Homo sapiens: one gene and its partners. The protein of the gene in region 1 interacts with the protein of each later gene in a pairwise test. Each region holds a gene or a part of one and is shown in the gene's direction. Other genes may lie near its edges.

Region 1 (7,028 bases):
TCTGCTAGGCACATTGCTGGGTCTTATCATTTGTCATTAATATATCATCATATAATATATTATTTGATCATCTTTTTCTTTTGAATAATAATGATGGAACTTTATTTTTAAAAATACCAACCATGGGAATGGGGAGGGAGACAAATAATCAAGTGTATTTAAAATGCCAGCAAATAAAAGTAAGAACAGTAAGTCAGTTTTGGGACTGGCTGGGTTGTTAGTGTCTTATGCAGAGCAGTTGATTCTTTAAAAAGAGAATTGATTTTCAATGTGAATTTCCTAAATGAGAACCAGCTACCTACCTACATTAAGTTTTATCACCTGGCATGCTTCCTATCAGAATTCTCTCCTCTGATTTTGTCTTTTTTCTTTTTACAATAACCTTTTAACTTTATAATGGTTTTGGATTTACAGAAAAGTTGCAAAGATAGTACAGATGGTTCTCGTATCTCCTGCACCCAGTTTCCCATTTGGTTAGCATCTTACATTGCCATAGGATGTTTATCACAACTAACAAACCTCATGGTTGGTTTTTGTCTTTCAGATTTTCAGAAGTTAAATCCAAAATTGCAAGTAAGTGATGTATTTATTTTACCTTTTTTTTAATAAGTAAAAAAACTACTTGTGTAAAAATAAAACAGCAAAAGGAGAAAAAGCAGGAACAATGTCATCTTCCTACCCTAGTAGGCTACTGCATAGAAGATCCCTGAGTTTGATTTCTCTTCCCTCAAAACAACCATTACCAGTTTTTTTGGATATTCTTGCAGAATAATCTATGGATATACAAGCATAAGACATAAATTCTATATATGTGTGTGTGTACATATGTATGTGTATGTATAGATATTTATATGTACTTCTATCCTCATTTATTTTTAAATAATTGCTACCATACTATATAAATAGCTTTATACCTTGCATTTTTAATTTAATAGTGCATTTTGGAAATCCTGTGCTTTCCATACATCTATCTCTGAATAAGATTCTCTCTTTTTTTTTTTAAGATTATATAAGCATTTCAGTATCTATTTAACTCCTTACATGATTAGTTTGGTTCTTGCCAGTCTTGGATTTTAGTTTAGGTTAGATCATTCTAGGTTTTTGAAAAGACCACTAAATTTGCAGGTTCTGTGGTAGCTGGGGTCACTATTTAGAGTAGGCCACTGCATAGAAGATTCAAAGATTCATCTATATTCCCAAAAAGTCTTAGAATAAGGATGACACAGCTAGTTAGACTTCCTGGGAATATTTTTGATCACAATAGATTGGTCTGAAGTTCAGGTGTTCGTTAAGAACCATACTAGCCTCAAGAATATAGTGAATAGGGCCGGACATGGTGGTTCGCACCTGTAATCCCAGCACTTTGGGAGGCCGAGGCGGGTGGATCACCTGAGGTCAGGAGTTCGAGACCAGCTTGGCCAACATAGTGAAACCCCGTCTCTATTAAAAATACAAAAATTAGCTGGGTGTGGTAATGGGTGTCTATAATCCTAGCTACTCAGGAGGCTGAGGCAGGAGAATCGCTTGAACCCAGCAGGTGGAGGTTGCAGTGAGCCGAGATCGCGCCACTGCACTTTGACTGGGTGACACAGAGAAACTCTGTCTCGAAAAAAAAAAAAAAAAGAAAATGAAAAAAATATAAATACTGCATATTATCAGGATGAGATTTGGTGTTCAGTCATCAGTCCACTATTGTTCTAGGTAGAGGCATCAGAACTCTAGTAAAGAGTTCTGTAGTCCTCTTCACCCTTTCCATGTGTAGGATTTTTCATGTGTGTTGCTATCAGAAATAGCATCTGGAGGATTTTTTCCAGTCAGCTACTGGTTTAAGTAACAATGGCATATGACAGTCAGACCCTGGAAAGCTCAGTAATTTTGCCAGTTTGGAAGTTTTTTGTCTTGAAAATATAGATTTATATGCCACAGTATATTACAGGGGCTGGGTTCACGGCCTATAATCTCATTTGTTTTTGTAATTCCTTCAAAAGAAAGCTATATTCATAGTCATTATATTTGTAAATAATGTAGATACTCTTAAATAACGTGGATGCCTTGTATGCCTCAGTGTAGCTGAATGACTTTATTTTTAGGTAAATACCATGATTTAGAATGCCAGCTGATTCAGGAGTTTACCAGTGCTCAAAGAAGAGGTGAAATCTCCAGAATGAGAGAAGTAGCAGCAGTTTTACTTCATTTTAAGGTAAATAGTAGGAATTAAAAATGAATAGTGTTCAAGGCTATGGAAATTACGTAAGTTCTATATATTATAGTCTCTGATTTCCCCCATTCATTATGTAACTATCACAGTGATAATTTTCACTGTTTTGAGTAATTTGTACATTTGATACTCTGTAAATGGTATTGAATGTTATATATTTAATATTTAAGGTTTTATATTCAATAATATTAATATTGAATTAAAATTAATTGATCAATTAAATATTGATGAATTTTTATACTTTGATAAAGAAAATCATATTGTCTGCCTTTTTGCTTCCACATATTATAATATAGGTGAAAAGAAAGAAAACGTGACCGTAAATATCTGTAGGATATAGGAACCAGAGAGTAGATGGAACATGACTAGTAAGAGACTTAAATCCAGGGGACCTCAGGAGGTAATACAAAAGAATTTTGTATTACGGAATTGTTTACCTAGAATTTGAACTCGGGAGAGAATCCCTGTGTAGGAGTATATTTCTGCAAAGAAAGTGCTTAAAGAAATGGTTCTTCCTTCAATCTGTTTCTTTGATTTGTATCAGATTAGGGAAGGGGAAGCTATTTGTTGGACTTTTCATTTTGGTAAAATCTGAATGAGTATTGAGAATGGCTCTTGAGACAGTAGTGCACTTTATATTGCTTTCCTTACTGGTTTTTATGTATGATTTATTAATAGGCAAAAATCTCATTATGGTGAGCTTAATGACAAATCAGTTTGTTTTAAACACATTTTATTAAAATACATTTAGTTTAAAAAGTAAATTTCCAAACTACCAGCTGAATACAACTGTCCAGATTCTTGCAAGGAAAACCAAATGCTAGAGAAGGCCAGGCGCAATGGCTCACTCCTGTAATCCTAGTATTTTGGGAGGCCGAGGCGGGTGGATCAGTTTAGCTCAGGAGTTCGAGATCAGCTTAGGCAACATGGTGAGACCCTGTCTCTACAGAAAATACAAAAATTAGCCGGAGGGGAGGCATGTGCCTGTAGTCCCAGCTACTCGGGAGGCTACAGCAGGAGGATCGCATGAGCCTGGGAGGCAGAGGTTGTAGTTAGCCAAGATGACACCATTGCATTCCAGCCTGGGTGACAGGAGTGAAATCCTGTCTCAAAAAAAAAAAAAGAAATATATATATACACATATATATATATATACACACACACACACACACACACACACACGTATATATACACACTTTAATATATATAAATATATTTATATGTATATAAAACACATACATATATATATGTAAAACCTTTTCCCAAGACCTTGACTCTCTGTGTATGTGTGTGTTTGTGTGTATGTGTGTGGGTGGGTGTGAGTGGGTGTGTTTTGGAGTTGAAGGAGATGGCTAGATGATCATAGGACAAAAATTACTCTAAAGAACTCAGTTACATACTTCATCTTTCTTGTTTTAGTCTAAAGTTCAACAAGGATATGTACCAACTGATAAATTTTATCATAGAAAGTGACTAGGGAGACGATACCTTTATCAAGTTACTGGTTTTCTGCAGTTAATTTTATTTAAGTCCAACAGGTGTTGCTATTGGCCATTTACTGGTAAATAGTCATAGCTTTATGACATATAACACTTCTTTTTTTGAAATAATAATTATTATAATTGAATCAGAATAATAACAATGTGTTTCTTCCTTGTAGGGTTATTCCCATTGTGTTGATGTTTATATAAAGCAGTGCCAGGAGGTAACATAACAGTACACTTTGTTGGATATTATTTTATGCTAATTGTTGTTTTAAAATCATGTAGAAATTATATGTTCACTGTATAAAATGTCTCTGCTGTTTAGGGTGCTTATTTGAGAAATGATATATTTGAAGACGCTGGAATACTCTGTCAAAGAGTGAACAAACAAGTTGGAGATATCTTCAGTAATCCAGAAACAGTCCTGGCTAAACTTATTCAAAATGTATTTGAAATCAAACTACAGGTAATTTTAAATAGTAACAAATTAAATAGTTCTTAAAGCAATATGTAATTTTTTCCCTATATTTTAAAAGTATTTTTAAAATTTAGTTTACTTATGTAATGACCTTAGAAATAGTAATCTAGTTAAGGAGAAAGGAATCCTCATGCTTTTTAAAAAATGTTTTGTATTCACCAAGAAGAAAGTGCTAATCAATAAGTATCATCAGAGAACATGCTTGAAATTTGTGTAGTATTCGTAGTAGTAGTATAATATATTGTGGTAAGATAGCCTTGAAGATTTTTCTTTTTTTTTGGTCCCTGCCTTCACCAATAGATGTCATTTGTGAAACTGAACAAGAATTACAAGAGCAGTCTGTAGAATTTTTAATAATATGGTACTAACCTGAAAAGGGAAAACACAGAAATTTAATTTACCCCCATATCACTGTACTTTCAGATAACATTTCCTAAGCTGTTTACAACTGGATTAAACAACATTCAATAAATGTTTGCTTTTTTTTTTTTTTAACACAATTCAGGAATTTTGATAGTATTGTCATTCTCTAGAAGTGGGGATGTAATGTACAGCATTTCACACATTTACTGTCTAAGAAACCCTGTTTTGGAGTAATGCCTATAGACATCTGAAGGAACACTAGTGTTACCTGGAACTCAGTTTGGGAGATGCTGCCTTAAGGAATTGACTCTATTGTTTGTACTCTCAGTTTTGTTTTTTTGATGCACCTCACAGAGCAGAATAGGCCAATTTAACAGAAAAGGTATTATTCCTAAGACTGATAAAGATCCTCTACAGGTAAATATGAGAAGTGGTAAAATGTAAAAACCTGTTTTAAAATATTTTATGATTGGTTTGTTTTCTGTAATTGCCTTTTTGATTGGATTGTAAGTCAGAAAGGTTCAAAACTGTGGAGTGAATTTTAAAAGAAAAATATCTTGAGAAGTTGTAGAATTTAATATTTACCTAATTAACAGAATGTTAACCTTTTTCTTTTAGAGTTTTGTGAAAGAGCAGTTAGAAGAATGTAGGAAGTCCGATGCAGAGCAATATCTCAAAAATCTCTATGATCTGTATACAAGGTAAATTTTTAATGATTAGAAAATAATAGATAACAGATTTTTTAAATTTTTTTGATAAAAACAAGGAAGTATTCAGGTATTTTTGAATAAGTTTGTCACCAGTTTACCTTTTAGCATTAAATGCTTAGCTGTATAGACTAGTTATATTGTACAAGACTGTATTGTACAACATTCTTAATACATTAACGTCAGGAATTGGATGTTATGCTTTATTTTTTCTCTAAGCATTAGTGTAATTACATTTATCTGCAGTCAAAACTTTAGAAACTGCAAAAGGAAGTGATGTAATCTTAACAAATGACAATTTCAGCTCTAAATCTTCTGTAGGAATTTGTCTTGTGCTTTTGTAAATGTCAGTGTTACTCTTAGAGATTGTCTCAGAAGCTTCATATGGAGTCTTGTGGGGTTTTTTTTTTCCTTGACTTTTCCCAACCCTATTACTCTTCTTCAGTGTCTTCATTTTGGGAGAAGGTTTTTCCAAAGTTACCGTAATGAGGAAGTCCATCTCAACAACAACACTGTTATGACCCTATCTTCAGCAATGGGAAATAGAAAATTAGAGGGAAAGTCCACAAGGACAAAACAAAAGAGGGTGAACAGACAGTAGATCTTTCAGTACTCTGTTTTGGGTCCCATGTGATGAATGGCATTAGACATACTTGAGGCCAATCTGCCACTGTCGCCATTTCTGGACTAGTTAATTGCCTCACAAGTTCTTTTCCTAGGAATTTATAACAGTTCTCAAAACCGTAAAGTTGTTCGTAATATTTCACTGTATTTATATGTAACCCTGTAGAGTTGATCTCTGCATCATAAGTACTCTCCCAGAGTTTAAGAAATGGTGGCTTAACATAAGTCATGAAAGTCACGTTGTAAAAATTTGTATTCCTTAATATTGTTACTATACCTAAAATGTATATTAATCTTTTTCTCCCCCTTTTTCATGAAAAGAACCACCAATCTTTCCAGCAAGCTGATGGAGTTTAATTTAGGTACTGATAAACAGACTTTCTTGTCTAAGCTTATCAAATCCATTTTCATTTCCTATTTGGAGAACTATATTGAGGTGGAGACTGGATATTTGAAAAGCAGAAGTGCTATGATCCTACAGCGCTATTATGATTCGAAAAACCATCAAAAGAGATCCATTGGCACAGGAGGGTGAGTATTTTTGTTAAATACTTCTGTTAAAACTGAAGACATTAATAACTTCATTATATTTGGGCAAATTATCAAATGTTGACTATCATTAGAATTTTCTGTGAAGAGTTCTTTTAATCCAGATTGTTATATTATTGATCAAATCTTGTTCTTAAACCACATGTTGAAATGACCTAACATAACATGATTGAAATGTAAGCCGGGCGTGGTAACTCACTCCTGTAATCGCAGCACTTTGGGAGGCCGAGATGGGCTGATCACCTGAGGTCTGGAGTTCGAGACCAGCCTGGCCAACGTGGTGAAACCCCATCTCTACTAAAAACACAAAAATTAGCTGGGCGTGGTGGCAGACACCTGTAATCCCAGCCATTAAGGAGGCTGAAGCAGGAGAATCACTTGAACCTGGGAGACGGAGGTTGCAGTGAGCCAAGATTACGCCACTGCACTCCAGCCTGGGCGACACAGCAAGACTCCGTGTCAAAAAAAAAAAAAAAAGTAAAGTAGATATTTGTCAATTAAAAAATAATGTTTTAAAACTATCGAGCAGAACACTAGTAATATAAAAAGTTCCATAGTTTCTTTCATTTTTTTTTTTCTCGATAGAATAAGTTCCAGGTTATTGA
Region 2 (7,028 bases), about 21 Mb from region 1:
TGTTTGTTGTTAGTAGGTAATGTGTGTATATATTTTTGAAGGCATAGCCTTATAATTTATAATGAAAAACAGCAGTCTTCTGTCCTATTTTTAAATTCTGTATCCCAGTGGCAATTATATTTCTAACTTGTGTATCAGTTGCTTCTGGAATTTACCCTCATATTCCTTTCTTAAAAAAAAATTTTTTTATAGAGATGGGGGTCTTGCTATATTGCCCAGCTGGTTTTGAACCCCTGGCCTCAAGTGATCCTCCTGTTTTGGCCTCCCAAAGTGCTGGAATTATAAGTGTGAGCCACTGCGCCTGGCCCTCATATTTCTAAATAAAGCAGTTTTAGACATTATCTATTGGTTTCCTATTATGGAAGCTGAGGATTTTTCTGTTTCATTCTTCTAATACTGTTGTGTTACAGTTTTTGTTTTAAATTATAAATATTGTTTACTGAGTCAAGAGTTACATTATGTTTAAAATTTTTCTTGTGTATTTTTTTAAACTTTGGAATTAATAATTGCTTCATTTATTGTTTGTTAGTTTTCTCTGTGTTTATCAATTCTTCCTACAGACCTTAGCAGATCTATGAGGGCCTCCTAATGCTGTTTTTTTTTTTAATTAAGCTAAACATGTACAGTTGTATTGATTTTTCATGAAGCCTGAGTATTCCACAAAATAAAGAGCATGTTACCTAATGGACTCAAGAAAAGTAAAAAAAAAAAAAAAAGCACTGGACCTCTCATAAGTTTTCAACTGTATGAAGATTTAAACTCCTGTCCAGTAAAGGTCAAAACTGCTTCTCGTTTTAAAGTTAGGTGTAAACAGTGTCTTCTGATGACTTCTAGAATGACCTAGAAAACCCCCTCATATTTGCTTCTTTCAGACACTGAAGTCCTAACGCTGTTTTCTCTGCGATCAAACTTATCAGATAATCCATCAGCCTCATTTTCTTCTGAAGGGCTCCCTCCTGGAAGCAACCCCTCTATCCCTCGTGTCCCCTATCCTCCTGCTCCATCTTTCATTTGGAGGCCAGCTGCATCTGTCTTCTTGGGGCATCTCTTTACCAGCAACCTGGATGTCCCCTTCACCTCTCCTCTGCTAGCATCTTATTTTCTCCTTAAGTTTGGTAGAGTGTATCTTTCAGTAGCATCCTGACAAAGGATTTCTAGAAGTTAGTTTTTTGAGATTTCTTGTATTGCTTGTCTATTGCTTTATAATTAATTACTCCAAAACTTAGTGGCTTAACACAACAATAAACATTTATTATTTTGCAGTCTCAGTGGCCAGGAATTTGGGAGCAACTTAGCTGGATGGTTCTGGCTCAGGGAATCCCAAGAAGTTGCAGTGAAGATATCAGCCAGGGATGCAGTCATCTCAAGGCTTGATTGGAGGCTGGAGGATCCGCTTCTAAGGTGACTCACTCGCAGGCTGGCAAGTTGTTGCTGGTTCTTGGTGAGAAGCCTTAGAGAACCCATGTGAGAACATGGGCCTCTCCACAGGCTGATTGAGTGTCCTCATAACCTGGTACCCAGGTTCTTCCAGACTTAGTGATCCAAGATAGCAAGACAGAGGTGACTGTTTTTATGGCCTAGATTTCTGCCAGATTTTGTTCACTAGAAGTCAGTTGCTATATCTTACCCATTTTTTTTTTTTTTTTGAGATGGAGCCTTGCTTAGTCACCCAGGCTGGAGTGCAGTGGTGCAATCTCGGATCACTGCAACCTCCACCTCTTGGGTTCAAGTGATTCTCCTGCCTCAGCCTGCCGAGTAGCTGGGATTACAGGTTCCTGCACCACGCCCGGCTTATTTTTTCCTTTTTTGTAGTAGAGACTGGGTTTCACCATGTTGGCCAGGCTGGTCTTGAACTTGTGACCTCAAGTGATCCGCCAGCCTCAGCCTCCCAAAGTGCTGGGAGTATAGGCGTGAGCCACCGTGCCTGGCCCATCCTACCCGTATTCAAGAAAGAGTATTAGTCTCTACCATTTGAAATTAGGAGTATCAAAGGATTATTGGACATGTTTTAAAACCACCACATCTTTCCTGTCTGAAAACATCTTGACGCTCACACTTAAGAGTATGGAATTCTAGATAGAAATCATGTTTCCTCAGAATTTTGAAGGCATTGTTCCATTATCTTCTAGCTTCCAGCGTTGCTTTTGTAAAGTCTCTTACCATTTTGATTCCTGATCCTTTGTACATGACCTGTTTTCTTCCTGAATACTTTTAGGATCTTCTCTTTATTCTTGTCTTGGTATTGTGGGATTGTGAGATGATGTGCTTTGATGTGGTCTTTTTTCGTTCATTGTGCTGGATACCCAGAGGAACTTTTGATTTTATGTATTTATTTATTTGAATTTTTTTTTAAAGAGACAGAGTCTCGCTCTATTGCCCAGGCTTGAGTACAGTGGTGCAATCATAGCTCATTGCAGCCTCCAACTCCTGGGCTCAAGTAATCCTCCTGCCTCAGTTGCCTGAGTAGCTGGGACTACAGGCCCACGCTGCCATGCTTAGCTAATTTTAAAAAATATTTTGTAGAGATGGGGTCTCACTGTGTTGCCTAAGCTGGTCTCAAACTCCTGGGCTCAAGTGATCCTCCTGCCTCCGTATCCCAAAGTGCTGGAATATAGGTGTGTGCCATTGTGCCTGACCAGATGAACTGTTTAATAAAAAAATTCGTATCTTCAGTTCTGGGAAATTTCTTATATATTGTTTCTTTAATATTTTCTTTTAGCTTTCATTTTATAAATTTAATCCTTTAGTCCATTTACTTTTATGTGTAATGTAAATTGTATAATGTAAAGCAAAAAATATTCAGGATATAGTTAAAATCATTTTTCTTTTTTTTTGAGACAGAGTCTTGCTCTGTCACCCAGGCTGTAGTGTAGTGGCATGATCTCGGCTTACTGCAACCTCCACCTTCTGGGCTCAAGCGATTCTAGTGCCTCAGCCTCCTGAGTAGCTGGGATTACAGGTGTCTACCACCATGTCTGGATAATTTTTTTGTATTTCTGGTAGAGTAGACAACGAGGTTTCACCATGTTGGCCAGGCTGGTTTTGAACTCCTGACCTCAAGTGATCCACCTGCCTCAGCCTCCCAAAGTGCTAGGATTACAGGCATGAGCCACCGTGGCTGGCCTAAACTCATTTTTCTCTTGTCATTTATTGTCAGATTCCCAGATGATTTAAAAAGTCACCTTTGTCATTTCCGCATAGCCAGAGTCTGTTTCTAAGTTTTAAAATTCTACTCTGCATTTTTTTTATTCCAGTGCAGTATGCTTAAAAAAAAAAAAAAAAAACTATTGTAGCGTTTTAATGGGTCACTCTCTGATAATAGCCTATGAAAATCTTCCAGGGCTCCAGTCCTGATAGAAGTTGAGAATTGTGAGGTATGTTAAGTCAGGGAACTGCCAAAGAGGAGTTGGTTCTGAATACAGGTCAGTGTGAGGTCGGTACAATAATGGAAGCTTGGGGCCACTTTCCTGGGGCTTTTTAAAGCTCTCCTGATGAGAAACAGCATAGGCGTCAGCCTGGGAAAGGGGTTATTAGTGAGCAGGATCAGTAAGTCTAGATGTGAAGACTAGAGGGATGTGGGATCTTGAGACCAAACCTATACTTATGAGTAGTATTTTTTTAAAAACCAAAGTAACTATTGAACATAGAAAACTCCACAGCCACCAAAGCAAGAGAGTTAGCCCCCTTCTTTTCCAGGTATCTTCTAGCTGTTCCATTAGGGCTTCATTTTCCATTCAGGGGAGGTTTTTGAGTGTCTTGAGAAGCTGGAGAAAAGGGAGAGAACTTTCCAAGAAAAAGAAAGAGAAATAAGAATGAGAATGGATTCATGGCAGTTTAAAGTATACTTCTGATATTTTTAGAGATGCCTTCAATGCTTCAAACATTTCAGTTTCATTGTGGCTTTTTAAAAAATAATAAAGAATGATTAGTGGATTTTTAAAAGAATTTCTGCTTGGCCTAATTTGTCAATAGGAAGAAAAGAGAATACACCAATTAAATGTTCATATCCTTAACAGCAAAAGGCTTATCACTCCAGCTCTGTATTTAGAGTCATCTTTGGTTGGGGAGATTGGATCTATTTATAGCTGCTACCACGGTCTTGTGGAGGGGAACTGCTCTCCCTTTTTCTCTGATATTTTCCGAGTTTTGCAGCACAATATAGATAAAGCTGGAATATTTCATAAGACTTTACTAAAGGCAAGGGAACAAGCAAAAGGAAGTAAGCAGAGAGAACAGCATGCAATGAAACCATGTTTGATATGAAATCTAGTTTTAGTTTTCAGCTTTGCTTTCTCCTTAGCACCTGGCTTGCCTCAAGTTTGTAAGCCATCTTTTCCCTGACACTCAGGAAACCCTTCAAGCATGTATAATTTCTAAATTTCAGACTCAAGAGAGAGGGCTTCATGATTGACACCAGGAATGCAGCCTACATGGGTGTGGCCTGTGTTTTCTACATGTAGTCATATCCAACTATATCCCAATAGCTTCCGCAAGACAGTCATATCTGCTATATCCAATTATCTAATATCCTTCACTAGAGGTAAACATGTGGCCATAGGTTTTTTTGTGTAATTGATCTTTATATATTATGTACATTTTATGGCTTTTTAAATTAGGGCTACAGTATTATATAATTAAAAACATGGACTAGAGCTAGTAGACCTGGGTTCTAGTCTATTTGCCAGTCTTGTATGTTGTAGCAATTCAATCTGTCTATGGTTTTGTAGAAAGATTTGGATATGATTAGTCTGTAATTTTATAATTTAGACTATAATTGAATTATTTTAAATAATCATAAAATTTGTACTTGAATCTTTCTCTTTGCCTATTTTAATATGATGCTGAGATATTAGTGAGGCATAATGACCCAATTATTATTCCTGTGAGAAAATATGATCCATTTTATAATGATATACTTTATAGGATAAGTTTTCCATGATGGTGACAGATGGGACCTACTTAAATTTAAAAGGGGCCATAGGGGTTTGCTATGAGTTTTTTATAAAGTAAATATTTACCTCTAAATGTACATCAGACATAATTTAGATGCTCTTATACAGAATGTAATTGCATGTAGTTAAATCTATATATAGATTCTATATTTTCTAGTTTTATTTCTTTCATGTATTTGACATTTCTTCTTTAGAATTTTTAATTGAATTGAAAAAGCAAACCAAAGCATCATATATTAAAGTACTTTAAGTTATTTGGTACTCTTAGTTAAGATACACCAATTTTTTTCTTTCTACTTAAGTATAATCTGTTTTTCTCCCCAGAGCGAAAAGCTGTTGCTATATGATACAGTCCAGAGTGAACTAGAGGAGAAGATAAGAAGGCTTGAAGAGGATAGGCACAGCATTGATATTACCTCAGGTAAGGAGAATGATATGATTGTGATGTTTGAGTGGCACCAGACCTTTGGTTTACTGTAGTGTCATATCGTATCTCAGTCTTCTAATATTAATATTATGTAAATGAAATGTCCCAGCAAAGGAGAAAAGGGGAAGAACTCTAAAGTGATGGTGATTATATTGTTATTGTTATTTGAATTCACACTTTAGAAAGATGTAAAAAATGGAGCACACGACAAGGGACGAAACAGAAGTATGACAGGAACCTACTGGCAGAATAGTGTCAGGGCTGGATGTGGTGCTGCACATCTATATCTACAGTCCCAGCTATGCAGGAGACTGAGGCGGAAGCATCCTTTGATCCCAGGAGTTCGAGATTGCAATTGCAGTGAGCCATGATGGCGCCACTGCACTCCAGACTGGGCAATCTTGTCTCCAAAAAAAAAAAGAATAGTATTGGAAATTAGCTATAGTATATGTTTTTCCTTGTAAGTCTTGAAAGACTGTTATGTGGAAGAAGGAATGAAAACCTTTTTGACATCATACAAGGTAGGACAAACTGATAGAAGTTATAGGGAGGTAGATTTTTGTTTCAGAAAAAGGAATAACTTATTAATGATTAGATCAGTCCAGTGTGAAATTGGCTTTTTCAGGGTGTTACAGAAAGGTTTTTTGCATTGAGTGGAAGGTCTACTAGGTTATCCTACAGTTCTTGAGTATATATTACTTTATCTGTTATAAAGTTTAGTTCTCTATAGGGTAGGCATGGTGGAGTCAGATAAGCTGAGCTCTAGTGCCAGTGCTCCCTCACCTACTAGTCTGGTGACCATGGACAGTTACTTCACTTTTCTAAATCAATCTCCTTGTCTGTAAAAGGAAAGTAATAAGAATACCTACCTCAGTGGTAGCTTTGGGGATTAGGTGAGACAATGCATGTAATATACATTTTACAAAGTGCATGACAATATGGTAATCAGTTCTTAGTCATGAAGTGCCAAATTGATTTTTGCTTTAATAAAGGCAGAGCAAAACTTAAACACGTAGTGCTCATGAAATTATGTACAGCTTAATCTATATATACCCAGCTGCCAATGAAGTTTTTTACGTTTTTACATGTAACTAAATAGCCACCATAAAATTAGAGTCTTTTTTCCTCCTTTGTTCACCAGAAACCCACTAATACTTAATCTTTATTTACCTGCCAGAGCTGTGGAATGATGAGCTTCAGTCAAGAAAAAAGAGGAAGGATCCTTTCAGTCCTGACAAAAAGAAGCCAGTTGTTGTTTCAGATATCCTTTTCCAAATTTTCTGTTTTTTTTTCCTTGATGTGCGTTTTTCCATTGTGCATGCCTTTATAACTTTTATTTGTAAACACTGACTTTATTTGCATGATCCTGTAATAAGCAAAAGATGATTTATTTATAAAACCGATTGAAGACAGAGGATATAGTGTATACTTTAGGTCAGGAGAGGTGGCAGAGGAGAAGAAATTCAATCATGATCTCAACTTTGAAAATTAATGTGACTTGTCGTTCACCAAGGGCTTTGATGTGAAACAGTCGTTTAGTATACAGTATGATTGTTTAATTCTCATGTGTACTTTTTTTTTCTTTTTGAGACAGGGTCTCACTGTGCCACCTAGGCTGGAGTGCAGTGGCACAATCATGGCTCACCTTA
Region 3 (7,028 bases), on another chromosome or scaffold:
TGTTCCAACATCAAGGCCCTCCATGAGCCTCTCCTCTCCATCTAGAAGGGTGTGTATTCTCTTCCTATGTCTATTCATATAAGCTCTGAGTTGAGCCACGGAAGAGATTTCACTAGTCACATATTACCTAGCCAGCTGAAGGTTTTCTGAGTCTGTTCTGCTCTTCATTGAGCACCCAAGAAAATCAGTGTTAGCAATGAGGATGAGGGTGGTGGTGGTGGTGGTGGTGTAGTGATGGAGAGAATGGGTGATAATTTAAAGCACAATTTGGCAAACTAGGCTGCACATTGTAATCCCCTGGGGAGCTTTAAGAATTTCTGCTGTCTGTTCCTGCCCCAAAGATTTTGACTGAGAGGCTCTGAGGTACATCTGTTCATTGAAATTTTTAAAAGCCCTCCAGAGATTGTAATTTGCAGCCCAAAACCACTGATTTAACTGATTCTCGATCATTTTAGTTTTTTGAAATGCTCTTGTGGATACTGCCCATGAGGCTGGAGGCCAAGCAAAATAGACAAAACAAGTAGTTCTATAAATCCCCAGAGGGGTACTGTTATATGTGCCTTTCCTCAGAACTGGGGATTCTGACAGCCTGTTGTACCATCTCCACTGGAAAGATGTTAAGGGCATTTGATGTTCACGCATCATCATGAGCACTCTTTGAGCCTATGTGTCCCCAGTCTCCTCTCTACACATCCCCCTCTCTACTTTTTTGGTCCTAATGTTCAACTTGCAAAATCTGATATGTGGCCTTCCTCTGTTATACCCTTAGCAGGGGGCTATTGAAAATGTGGGAAATAGAAGAATGTTTGGGAATTAAGGGGATTTTTGCTTTTCTGCTGTTTGCCTTTGGCCCAAAACCTGCTTTGCTTGGACTTTCTAAATGACCCAGAAAGTTCCTTTCAGCGTAATTAGTTCCTCTCTTTTACCATTCACAGGAACAGGCTTGGGAAAAATGAATAACTATTGTCATGCAGTAGATGCCTCTAAAGGAAATCGAGTGTAATTTACAGTTTCCGCTCACTCCTGCAAACACTGCCTACCTACTCTAGTCTTGGATTCAGGCAACCACCACAGGAAACCCAAGCCCCTGTTCCTTTTCTAAAGAATTCTTGCTTCTTGACAACATAATACATGGAAAATAAAGAACATAGTTAAGTACCCATTTTTAATATTGCTTCACTTTTCCAAGAGCCCCTTTTGTTTCCTTATCACCTGCTGTCCCTGTGCAGTGGATGTTAGTTTGAGTGCTTGCCATTTTCCTTGACTATTTCACTGGCAGAGAAGCCTATTTCAACCTGCAGAAGGCAGAGAGAAACATGAAGGAGCTGAAAGAATTATATAAAGGAGGTGTTTGTGAATTACAAGTCTCTGAGAACGACCTAACACTTGCTTTGGGCAGGTAAGATCTGGGCTTGGAGAAGCTGAGGCTTTTATGAATGAGGCTTGGAATTACATGATATAAGGGAGAAAAATATTTAGAGCAAAAAAACCCAGAAACTCAAATGATAATAAAAGAGGCTCATATTTACCAAATGGATACACTGGGCATTTTGTGTACTGCCCCATTTAATCCTCACAACAGCCATTGAGGTAGTTGGTATGATTATTATTTTATTAAAGGGGGGTGGTCAAGGAGACTGAAGCTGAGGTTAAACAAATTGTCCAAGATAACATAGCTTGTAAATATTGGATCTGTGATCTGAACTCACTAACTCTTAGTCTTCCTTATACTTGCCTCTCACACTCACTCTAATATTGTATTTTTCTCTGAATTGCCACCTATTTTTGTCATGACATGTGACATTTTAGATGAAGGAACACTTAATGAAGACAATTAACTGGAAGCTGTGAAAGCCATGCACAGCATGTACATTTTTAAGGAAAGTTCTGTTCCATATGAAAACAAAGTTCATGGAATTGGTTTAAGCCAGAACAAGATTTAACTGTCTTGCTGTTGACTTAGGGATCCTCTGAGAATCAGAATATTTAGAAATGAATGTGGGCCCATCAGATTATTAGAAGAAAAAGAATAAAGAGTTTACTGTTCCCTAGATTTTTCAAATATCTTTACATCCTTGAAAGCAATCTGTTTCCAAAACTGTAAGCACTTGGCACAGTAGGGTATATGACTGAATAGTAAGTAAATGAAATACATGCGTCATGTCTGCGTCCTCTAAACAACCATGAATCTAGAAGTCAGATGGGAAATGGGGAGATGTTGGAATGTCCAGAACTAAATCAAACTATTGACTTAAGTCCACAGGGCAATAAATTACAGTCTGGTGAATGTCTACTCCTGTCACATAGGGCCTAAAGTTTTTCTGCCTTATGTGAAAGATAGTCTTATTCTTTTTTCAGAAAAACTCTGGTGCTCATTTTGTTCATCCATTCTCCAGTATTTATTGAATACCTTTTTTATGCATGTCCTGTTCTAAGTGTTAGAGTGCCTACTAAGTATAACTACATACTAGACACTGTTCTAAGTGCTTTACATAATTTATTTTACTTAGTCCACATGACAGCCAATGAGGGTAGGTATTTCTATTATTTTCATTTAGATAGTTTTTCATTCTGCCACTCAGGCTGGAGTGCAGGGTGCAATCAGAACTCACTGAAACCTTGAACTCCTGGGCTCAGCCTCCTCAGTAGCTGAGACCACAGGCAAGACACCACCACACCTGGCTTACACATATATTTTTAATTCAACTTAGGAATACAAATATTGGAGTCAGGAGGAAGGAATATTGATTGTATATCTACTATATGTTAGGTGATTTTATACTTAATATTATTCTTCACAACAAACTTGCAGTATAAACTCAATTGTTTTATTTAGAAGGAAATGTAGGCTTATAGAGTTTGAGAAAGCTCATAATTACCAGAACCAGCTTTGAACTACCCATGATCTCATTTTACCTTGCTGTCTCTGGAAAGATAAACCTCAATGAGATATTGTTTTATCCTCATTTAAAAAAATTATATTCCCAACTTTGTTGTGGAAAATTTTGAAAATACAGACAGGTATGAAGAACGAATAAGCCGATTGTGATACCACCACACAGACGTAACTGCTATGAACATTTTGAACAGATATATATGGATATCAATAACTATATCTCTATGTGGATCACAGTCTAAGTGCAGCTTTATATCTTTTTCCTTTTAGCACATTTTTAATATCTTCCCATATCTGTCTAAAAAGAAAACATGACTTTTAATGTCTCTAAGGTATTTTATTGTATGATATGCTATAATTTATTTAATCACTCTCTTGGGGGAATATTTACATTTTTTTTTCTATCCTCATTTTTAACTGAGGAGGAATTCGCCAAATTAAATGGAACAAAACAAAGCAAAAACTTTCTTTGGCCTGAAAGAGAGGGAATCAGAGGTAATAAAATTTTATTTTGATTTTAGAAAGTCTATGTTTATGGGTGAATTATCCCATCTTGTGAATTCCTGGAAGCCATTTTTCCATTTGCTTTTTAAAAAAAATTAGACAACAGCACGACATAGTAATGGGTTTAATGAGTGGTCGTCAATGAAATCTGATGGGTAAAATGCAGGATAATTGGAGTTTATTTACAGCAAGGCTAGATTTTTGAGCCAGCTACCAAGATGATGGGCCTGTGAAGGCCAAATTCTTTAATTCTTGGAATCAGTTCCTTTTGTGTCTGCAAAGTAAGTGGCCTCTCTGTGACTTTCTATTTTCATCCCTTTTCTTGCAGAGCCTCCTTGGCCATCCACAGACTGAACCTAGCTCTGGCATACTTTGAAAAGGCAATTGGCGATGTTATTGCTGCCAAGGGTGATAGGACGTCAGATCTGATCAGCCTGTACGAGGAAGCTGCTCAGATAGAGCAGCTGAGGAGGAACCACAACCAGGCCATCCAGTACTTGCAGCAGGTCAGTGGGTTGGCCAGAGCCCAGGCTGGGTTGCCTTGTTTGGCCCCAGGCTTGGTTCTCAGGGCCAGGGAAGCATGGGCTTCTCAGAAGAACAAGGGCTGGAATTGATTCTGTTTTAACCCTGACTTTCCTCCAGATCCACCTAAGAGCCCTTGATCAAACCTTAAATGACCAGGCCAGAGAACACTGACTCAGGTGGGCGAATGTGCTGTGTCATTGGCTGTGCAGACAGCACTTCCCCCTCCCCCTCTTATCTCTGTTGGTGCTGTAAAAAAGAAGCAAAATGTGAGTCTACTCCAAGGAAAAAAGATACAGGGACAACCGAACTTAAATCTTCAGCAAAAACAAAAGGCCTTTTTAAATGAAAAATCATGGTATTTTAGGGTAATGCTGTCATTTGTACTTTAAACTAGTCTAGCTGATTATATTTCCAAACCTAAGGTTAAACTAACAAAAGGGTGTTTCACTTGGAGGTAACTAACTTGACAAATGCCCGGGGGAAAACAAAACAAAACATAGGAAGGAATGGTGAGTCTATTATATTAGGGTACTTTTATGTATCATGTACTTGAAGCTGCTAAATTCACCTTTTCTCTCTCCGAAGGAGAATGCTGCCTGTGGCTTCAGGTATCTCCCACAGTGACAAACATCAAAATACTGGATATCCTGTATCATAGAAAAGGTGCAATGCAATCTAACAGTATACATGAAAACAGACTCTGAAGAAAAGGCATTGCAAACAATCTGACAGTCCACAATTATAAACATCACACAGTGGAGAGATGTCAGAGAATGCTGCTGTGAAGGCAGGGAGTCCACTGCTTACAGAGAAAGCCAGTCTGGTTTTTGTGTTCAAGACTTTCTCAAAGCAGTGGTCAGATCAGAATGAATAAAACAATAAATAGCAGTGTTTCCCAAAAGCACCAAAAGATAAGAGTTAAAATGTATGGAATGCTTTTTCTACGTTCCCTAGAGGATATATCGATTCATTTAATCTGTACAATAGCTCTATGAAGTAGGTACCATTATTATTTTATCTCATTTTAAGGATGAGAAAACTGACGCACAGAGTTATAGCTAACTCAGCTGACATTGTATAGCTAAGAAATAGTAAAGCAGGGATTTGAACTCCACATCTGACCCTACAGCCTGTATTCATAACAACTCTGCTCTGTGTCTTGGCTCCAAAGTCTTCTCTGATAACCCCTCAGCTCTTTGAAACACCTCACAGTATTTGGCCTATGAAATATTAAGCACAGGTGGTTCTTTTGTGGCTGGTGGGTGTGGACTCAATGTTTTTCTCTTTCTCTTTTCTAAGTGTTACTCCTTCCATTTTAGCACAAATAATATAAAATCTAACACTTTTTTAGTGCTTACTATATGCTGGGTGGTGTTCTAACCACTTTACATATATTAACCATTAATTTATTTAATATTTACAACAACTTTTTATAACAAATACTATTCTTATTATCCCTGATTTACATTTACAAGACTGCCTTCAAGACTGGAGTTCAGTCCAGTGAGACTGAGCTAAGGTTATGACTTTATTTTTGCTATGAAATCTAATAAAAATTATACTAGCCAACATTTATTGAGAACTTACCACGTGATGAGCACCGTGCCCTGTGCTTTGCATATACCATCTCACTTAATCCTTCCCAAACCCTAATCAGTGGGAATTATATATTCCTTCTACGAATGAAGGTGAAATTACTTGCACAAGACTCATAGCTAGGAAGTGGCAGAGCTGGGACTCAAACTCACCTCTCATCTAAATCCACAGTGAACACTGTCATTGGGTGCTTACCTTGTCATGATTTTCTTTATTCCAGGCTCATTCTGTCTGTGTTTCTTTGTTCACTGAAGTCAGCCCCAAAACTGCAGAAATGAGTGCGTTACTGGCCAAAGCTTATGCCATGTCTGGAGAGGCCCAGCACAGGGGTAGGTAAAAGAGGTAGCCTTGAAGTTATTTCCCAGTCACATGAGGGAAGCACATTGGCAAACAGCCTATCTAAGATTCTAATTAGCTATTTATTCCTGTAATGGAAAAATTAGGTGGGTCACAGTCTCATACAAAATCAATTACACATTAATTTAAACCTGATAATATACCCCCACATTCGTTGGAATGTCAGTAACAAATAAATCATCTGATTTCTACATCCTCTATTTATTTTGAATCTCAGTGAGATTCACCTTCTTAACTAATAGATATCACACATACTGTGAATGTGGCCTGTGCAGTATCGGTTGATAAGGACATCCAGTGATAAATGGGTAGAGCTTTACCTCCTCCACTTTCAGTCTCCTTGACTCTTTTCCTCTGGCTGACAAGAGAGAATGTTTGTTAGCAGAATTTTCTTGACCCATATTCAATAGTTAGATACTGGGGGTTGCAGAGAAAGCCAACTGATTAATTTATGCTTCAACAATAGTTCTTTGTCTGGCAAGGTCATCTTTTTGAAAGTGGGTGGCTTTGGGAGAGACACAAATGAACCAATGAGGGAGGACAATGTATCATTCTGTGCTGGCTTGATCAGATTAATGGACACTGATGGATTCAGTGGCCTGTCAGGAGGAATTTAGGCTTCATGAAGAATATAATTTGATCATTTTAAAACTGTCTATTTTCTTTGCTTATAAAAGTAACCTTTTTGTGTATGTTATTTTCCAGTTAGAGAGAGGGACAGAATTATAGAGAAAGCTTTCCATCCTACTTTTTTCAATGCTTGTATTCCCCATGTCATTAAATAAACATTTTTTTTCAGTTTGCAAAAGTTTTGATCTTTTAATTATTTTTTAAGCATAAACATCCATTGAAGACTTCCTGATTCTTTGTTTTTCAGCTAATCCTCTTTCTCCTTTTAAGATTTCCTCGTCTATATTCACAGTATATATTCTCCATACAACTTGAGCTTTTTAAGAGTAGTCTTTGTGGTTACAAGAAATTTAGTCTGTAAATATGTACAAATTTTAGCTTTTTTTTAAGTGAGAAAAAACAAGCGTTTATGTTTATAGAGTTGAGAGATTTCAAGGCCACCTCATTATTTTCTTATATACTAATTTTTAACTTTAAAAATATAGATTTTTATATTATATCATTCACTAAATTCCAGGTG
Region 4 (7,028 bases), on another chromosome or scaffold:
CCAGCACTTTGGCAGGGTGAGATGGGAAGATCACTTTGAGACCAGGCTGGGCAACAAAGCAACCTTATCTCCACAAAAAGTTTTTTAAAATTAGCGAGGCGTGGTGGTGTGCACCTGGAGTCCCAGCTACTTGGGAGGCTGAGGTGGGAGGATGGCTTGAGTCCAGGTGTTCGAGGCTGCAGTGAGCTGTGACCATGCGCCACTGCATTCCAGCCTGGGTGACAGAGCGAGACTCTTAAAAAAAAAAAAAAAAAAAAAAGTAAAGTATGTAGTAGTGAGGGAGGTAAGAACTATGGGGAAAAATAAAACAGGCACAGATGAGTGGATAGGGTGGAGGAGTGTACTTTTTTTTTTTTCTTTGAGATGGGGTATTGCTCTGTTACCCAGGATGGAGTGCTGTGGCGTGATCTCGGCTCACTGAAACCTCCGCCTCCTGGGTTCAAGTGATTCTCCTGCCTCAGCCTCCCGAGTAGCTGAGATTACAGGCGACTACCACCATGCCTGGCTAATTTTTTTTAATTTTTATAGAGACAGGGTTTCTTTTTTTTTTTTTTTTTTTTTTTGAGATGGAGTCTTGCTCTGTTGCCCAGGCTAGAGTGCAGTGGCACGATCTTGGTTCACTGCAACTTCTGCCTCCTGAGTTCAAGTTGCCTCAGCCTCCTGAGTAGCTGGAACTACAGGCGCCCGCCACCACGCCTGGCTAATTTTTATGTATTTAGTAGAGATGGGGTTTTACCATATTGGCCAGGCTGGTCTCGATCTCTTGACCTTGTGATCTGCCCGCCTCGGCCTCTCAAAGTGCCGGGATTACAGTGTGAGCCACCGCACCTGGCCGACACAGGGTTTCATCATGTTGGCCAGGCTGGTATCAAACTCCTGACCTCAAGTGATCCACCCACTCTTGGCCTACTAAAATGTTGAGATTACAGGCGTGAGCCACTGCGCCCGGCCAAGAATGTACTTTTTTTTTTTTCTGAGATGGAGTTTCACTCTTGTTGCCCAGGCTGGAGTGCAATGGCGCGATCTCAGCTCACCGCAACCTCTGCCTCCTAGGTTCAAGCAATTCTCCTGCCTCAGTCTCCTGAGTAGCTGGGATTACAGGCATGTGCCACCACACCCAGCTAATTTTGTATTTTTAGTAGAGACGGGGTTTCTCCGTGTTGGTCAGGCTGGTCTGGAACTCCCGACCTCAGGTGATCTGCCCGCCTCAGCCTCCCAAAGTGCTGGGATTACAGGCGGGAGCCACCACGCCCAGCCTTTTTTTTTTTTTTTTTTTTTGAGACAGAGTCTCACTCTGTCGCCATGCTAGAGTGCAGTGGCACGATCTCGGCTCACTGCAACCTCTGCCTCCTGGGTTCAAGCAATTCTCCTGCCTCAGTCTCCCGAGTAGCTGGGACTATAGGTGCGTGCCACCATGCCCAGCTAATTTTTGTATTTTTAGTAGAGACATTTCACCATGTTGGCCAGGTTGGTCTCGATCTCTTGACCTCGTGATCCGCCCACCTCAGCCTCCCAAAGTGCTGGGATTACAGGCGTCAGCCACCGCACCTGGCCAAGAGTGTACATTTAAACAAGATGAGGAGGGAAGCCTCGCTGAGAAGATGACATTTGAGTGAAGGAAGGGAGATAGGGAGGCCTGTGGGGATCTGGGGCAAGAGCACTGCTGGAGAGCACAGCAACGCTTCTAGCGAGGGGTATGCCTGGTGTCGGTGAGGGTGACCAAAGCAGCCAGTGTGGTCATCATGGAGGACCTGTGTGTGTTTTGTGGGTACAGCATGAGATGGGGTCAGGGGTTGGAGGAAGCAGATCAGTTAGGGCCTGTGGGCCCTGGGGAGGCCTCTGGCTTATACCCTGTGTGGGAGCCATGGGAGGCTTCTGAACAGAGGAAGGACAGGATCAGATTCAGGGGTGCAGAGAGTTCCTCTGGCTGCATAAAGGGAAGGGGCTGTGAGGGACAGAGGAGGTCACCAGGACACCAGAGAGGAAGCTGCTGCAAAGTCCAGGGAAGATGGTGGAGGACAGGACAAGGGGGCGGGAAGAGGAGTGGCTGAGAAGGGAATAGGGTTCATGTCCTCCCTAGACTCTCTGTCTTCCAGTCTTGGCCTCTCTCTTTTTTTTTTTTTTGGTTCCTGTCTTTTTATTTTGAGACAGAGTCTCGCTCTGTCACCCAGGCTGGAGTGCAGTGGCGCGATCTTGGCTTACTGCAAGCTCCGCCTCCTGGGTTCATGCCATTCTCCTGCCTCAGCCTCCTGAGTAGCTGGGACTACAGGCACCCGTCACCATGCCCGGCTAATTTTTTGTATTTTTTTTAGTAGAGATGGGGTTTCACGGTGTTAGCCAGGATGGTCTCGATCTCCTGACCTCGTGATCCTCCTGCCTCGGCCTCCCAAAGTGCTGGGATTACAGGCATGAGCCTTTCCTTTTTTTTTTTTTTTTTTTTTAATTTTAGAGAGAATCTCACTCTGCTCACTCTGTCACCCAGGCTAGAGTGCAGTGGCGCCATCTTGGCTCACTGCGACCTCCGCCTCCCGGGTTCAAGTGAGTCTCCTGCCTCAGCCTCCCAAGTAGCTGGGATTACAGGCATGTACTGCCACAACCAGCTAATTTTTGTATTTTTTTTTTTTTTTTGGAGATGGAGTCTCGCTTTGTTGCCCAGGCTGGAGTGCAGTGGTGCAGTCTCGGCTCACTGCAACCTCCGCCTCCTGGGTTCAGGTGATTCTTCTGCCTCAGCCTCCCGAGTAGCTGGGACTACAGGTGCGTGCCACCACGTCTGGCTAATTTTCTGTATTTTTAGTAGAGATGGGGTTTCACCATGTTAGCCAGGATGGTCTCGATCTCCTGACCTCGTGATCCACCTGCCTCGGCCTCCCAAAGTGCTGGGATGACAGGCGTGAGACATTGCGCCCGGCCAATTTTTGTATTTTTAATACAGACAGGGTTTTGCCATGCTCGTGAGGCTGGTCTTGAACTCCTGACTTCAGGTGATTCACCCGCCTTGGCCTCCCAAAGTGCTGGGATTACAGGCCTGAGCCACTGTGCCCTGCCAATCCTGTCTCCTTTTGATGCAGCCACTGGGTCTTTCTAACACACATATCTGCTCCTGTCGCTCCCTTTTTCAAAACCATCCATGCATCTCAGGGCCCCAGGACACAAATGAACTCCTCAGCCTGGTGTTTGACCCTCTGCAGGGACTGGCCCCTGCCAGCCCAGCCTTACCGGCCTCAGCCACTTGTCGGTCTCCCTACCTCTCAGGCCACTCCAGCCACACTGAAGTTCTTCCCATTCCTCTGGGCCCTTGCTCATGCTGGGCCTCTGCTTGGAACATTCCTACCCTCTTTTCCCTGGCAACCTCCTTCCTCCAGGCAGCACTACTTGTTCCTCCAGGCTTGGTCCAAACTTTTGTTTTTTTTTGAGATAGAGTCTCTGTCACTCAGGCTGGAGTGCAGTGGCGTGATTTCGGCTCACCGCAACCTCCGCTTCCAGGTTCAAGCAATTCTGGTGCCCCAGCCTCCTGAGTAGCTGGGACTATGGGCATGGGCCACCAACGCCTGGCAAAGTTTTTATATTTTTAGTAGAGACAGGGTTTCACCACGTTGGCCAGCTGCTCACAAACTCCTGGCCTCAAGTGATCCACCCACCTCAGCATCCAAAGTGCTGGAATTATAGGCATGAGCCACTGCACCCGGCCCCAAACTTCTTGACAGGCTTTCAAAACCCTGCAGGATTTGGTCCCATCCCTCCTTCTCTGGGGGATGTGTATGTCTTGCCAGTTCTCCCTTCTATACTTCATGCTAAATCCCCTCCCAGCCCTTGGCAGCTCCAGGGTGGGACAGGTGGGGAACAAGTGGTTAGACCTTGGATCTACTTGGAAGGCAGAGCCAACGTGATTTCCTGATGGAATGGATGTGTAATCTGAAAGAGAGAGAGGAATCAAGGATGATGTCTTCAGACAGTGCTCTCTTGTCTTTCCAGGACTTTGCACCTGCTGTGCCTGAGCCTAAGTTTGCTCATCTGTAAAATGAGGCTAATAATAGCACCTGCTTCTATAGATGTTGAGAAGAAGAAATACATTAATTCACGAAAGTGCTCAGAATGGGGCCTGATGGTCAAGACTTGATCGATGAGGGCTGTTTTTAAAGTTTTCTTCTTATCCATCTTTGGGCTGAGCTCAAATGAATGGGTGTGTCTTCTTCACCTCAGGGCTTAGCAGAGACTCTGTCCTAGAGAGTTTGCCCTCAGTAGGTGAAATGTAACAAGGCAAGGCAAGGCTTTTTCACACTTTGCTGACTGCAATCTACAGGAGGAAATATATTTTATGTGTTAATCAAGGACTGACTGTAGCAGATCCCACCCACATATAAAACTCAAACACACATTTTCCTACCACCAGTATTCTTTCGTTTCTTGGCACTAAAATGAAAGTCACATAACATACATTTACGTGACTTTTCAAAGTGTACAATTCAGTGGCATTCAGTACATTCACAGGGTTGTGCAATCACCACTTCTGTGTTGTTCCAGAATGTTTTCTTTTTTTTTCTTTTCTTTTTTTTGGAGACAGAGTCTCGCTCTGTTACCCAGGCTGGAGTGCAGTGGTGCGATCTTGGCTCATTGCAAGCTCCACTTCCAGGGTTCAAGCAATTCTCCTGCCTCAACCTCTGGAGTAGCTGGAATTACAGGCATGCACCACCACACCCGGCTAATTTTCGTATTTTTAGTGGAAACGGCATTTGACCGTGGCCAGGCTGGCTTGAACTCCTGACCTCAGGTGATCCACCCGCCTCGGTCTCCCAAAGTGCTGGGATTACAGGTGTGAGCCACTGCGCCCGGCCTCAGAACGTTTTCATTACTCTCAGAGGTGCCATGCTTATACTGCTTTGTACCTTATACCTTTGTACCCATATTTATTAAGCAGTCACTCTCCATTTCCCCCAACCCCTAGCAACCACCAATTTGTTTTCTGTCTCTTTTGGCCAATATGATATTCTTTTCCTTTTCCTTTTTTTTTTGAGAAGGGTCTCACTTTGTCACCCAGGCTGGAGTGCAGTGGCACCATCTCAGCTCACTGCAGCCTTGACCTCCTGGGCTCAAGTGTTTCTCCCACCTCAGCCCCCCAAGTAACTGGGACTACTGGTGTGCACCACCACGCCCAGCTAATTTTTATATTTGTATTTTTTGAAGAGATGGGGTTTCACCATGTTGCTCAGGCTGGTCTCGAACTCCTGAGCTCAAGTGATCCACCCACCTCAGCCTCCCAAAGTGCTGGAATTACAGGTGGGAGCCACCATGCCTGGCCTCTTTTCCTTTTTTCTTTTCTTTTCTTTTTTGTTTTTTTTTTTTTTTTTTTTTTTAGATATGGTCTCACTGTGTTAGCGGGGTTGGTCTTAAGCTCCTGGCCTTGCCGGGCGCAGTGGCTCACGCCTGTAATCCCACCACTTTGGGAGGCTGAGGCGGGCAGATCACGAGGTCAGGAGTTCGAGACCAGGGTGACCAACATGGTAAAACCCCACCTCTACTAAAAATACAAAAGTTAGCCAGGCGTGGTGGTGTGCTCCTGTAATCCCAGCTACTCAGGGGGCTGAGGCAGAGGAATAGCTTGATCCCTGGAATCAGAGGTTTTAGTGAGCCGAGATCGCACCACTGCACTCCAGCCTGGGCGACAGAGCTAGACTCCGTCTCACAAAAACAAAAACAAACAAACCAAAAAAACCAAAACAAAACAAAAAAACTCCTGGCCTCAAGCAATCCTCCACCTCAGCCTCCCAAAGTGCTAAGATTACAGGCATGAGCCACCGAGCCCAGCCAACCAATATAATATATCTTTTTAAATTATTATTATTATTTTTTGAGATGGAGTTTCGCTTATGTTGCCCAAGCTGGAGTGCAATGGTGTGGTCTCGGCTCACTGAAATCTCCGCCTCTCAAGTTCAAGCGATTCTCTTGCCTCAGCCTCCCTAGTAGCTGGGATTACAGGCGCCCGCCACCACGCCCAGCTAATTTCTTTGTATTTTTAGTAGAGACAGGGTTTCAACATGTTGGCCAGGCTGGTCTCAAACTCCTGACCTCAGGTGATCCGTCTGTCAGCCTCCCAAAGTGTTGGGATTATAGGCATGAGCCACTGCGCCCGGCCTATTTACAAAATTTTTTTTTTTAAATAATGTTTTAATTTTGTAGAGATGGTGTCTATGTTGCCCAGGCTGGTCTTGAACTCCTGGGCCCAAGTGATCCTCTCTTGCCCTTGCCTCCCAAAGTGCTAGGATTATAGGTGTGAGCCACTGTGCCTGCCCAACCAATAGAATATTCTTATTATATATGATGCACTCTGGTATTTGCCGTTCTGTGCTATTCTGTTTGAATTTAAAAATTGGTCAAGACCCACCAAACTGATTTCCCCACCAAGGCAGTGACACACATTAGAATGACCTGGAGAATTTTAAAAGATACTGATGCCCAGGCCTCACCCTAGAGATTCTGAAGTGGTTTCAGGACTTTTTCTTAATTAAAAGATAAATAGAGATGAGGTCTCACTATGTTGCCCAGGCTGGTCTCAAACTCCTGGCCTCAAACGATTTCTCCCACCTTGGCCTCCCAAAGTGCTGGGATTAAAGACGTGTGCCAGGCTGGGCATGGTGGCTCACGCCTGTGATCCCAGCACTTTGGGGGGCTGAGGCAGGCGGATCACAAGGTCAGGAGATGAAGACCATCCTGGCTTGATCTGTAGATCAAGTGAAACCCCGTCTCTACTAAAAATACAAAAAAAAAAAAAAAAAAAAAATTAGCCAGGCGTGGTGGCAAGTGCCTGTAGTTCCAGCTACTCAGGAGGCTGAGGCAGGAGAATGGCGTGAACGCAGGAGGCGGAGCTTGCAGTGAGCCTAGATCGCGCCACTGCACTTCAGCCCAGGCAATAGAGCGAGGCTCCATCTCCAAAAAAAAAAAAAAAAAAAAAAGATGTGAGCCAGCCAGTTGCAGGATTTCTGGAAGCTCCCAGGTAATGCTATATACAACCAAAGTGAGAACCACTAACCTAA

What was found.
Region 2: the proteins of EXOC5 (region 1) and BRMS1L interact in binary tests that used the Homo sapiens proteins (3 or more experiments, as listed by UniProt).
Region 3: the proteins of EXOC5 (region 1) and TTC23L interact in binary tests that used the Homo sapiens proteins (3 or more experiments, as listed by UniProt).
Region 4: the proteins of EXOC5 (region 1) and RAB4B interact in binary tests that used the Homo sapiens proteins (3 or more experiments, as listed by UniProt).

Annotation. Positions count from the first base shown.
Region 1 is NC_000014.9:57,230,883-57,237,910, reverse strand, and holds part of EXOC5 (exocyst complex component 5), read left to right. Parts: intron 1-544; coding exon 545-573; intron 574-2,090; coding exon 2,091-2,200; intron 2,201-3,878; coding exon 3,879-3,923; intron 3,924-4,027; coding exon 4,028-4,168; intron 4,169-5,161; coding exon 5,162-5,244; intron 5,245-6,195; coding exon 6,196-6,405; intron 6,406-7,028. UniProt on the Homo sapiens protein: Component of the exocyst complex involved in the docking of exocytic vesicles with fusion sites on the plasma membrane.
Region 2 is NC_000014.9:35,857,314-35,864,341, forward strand, and holds part of BRMS1L (breast cancer metastasis-suppressor 1-like protein), read left to right. Parts: intron 1-5,276; coding exon 5,277-5,373; intron 5,374-6,556; coding exon 6,557-6,640; intron 6,641-7,028. UniProt on the Homo sapiens protein: Involved in the histone deacetylase (HDAC1)-dependent transcriptional repression activity. When overexpressed in lung cancer cell line that lacks p53/TP53 expression, inhibits cell growth.
Region 3 is NC_000005.10:34,863,164-34,870,191, forward strand, and holds part of TTC23L (tetratricopeptide repeat protein 23-like), read left to right. Parts: intron 1-1,273; coding exon 1,274-1,399; intron 1,400-3,728; coding exon 3,729-3,906; intron 3,907-4,042; coding exon of another isoform or gene 4,043-4,096; exon of another isoform or gene 4,097-5,741; coding exon 5,742-5,850; exon of another isoform or gene 5,851-6,686; intron 6,687-7,028.
Region 4 is NC_000019.10:40,788,245-40,795,272, forward strand, and holds part of RAB4B (ras-related protein Rab-4B), read left to right. Parts: intron 1-7,028. UniProt on the Homo sapiens protein: The small GTPases Rab are key regulators of intracellular membrane trafficking, from the formation of transport vesicles to their fusion with membranes.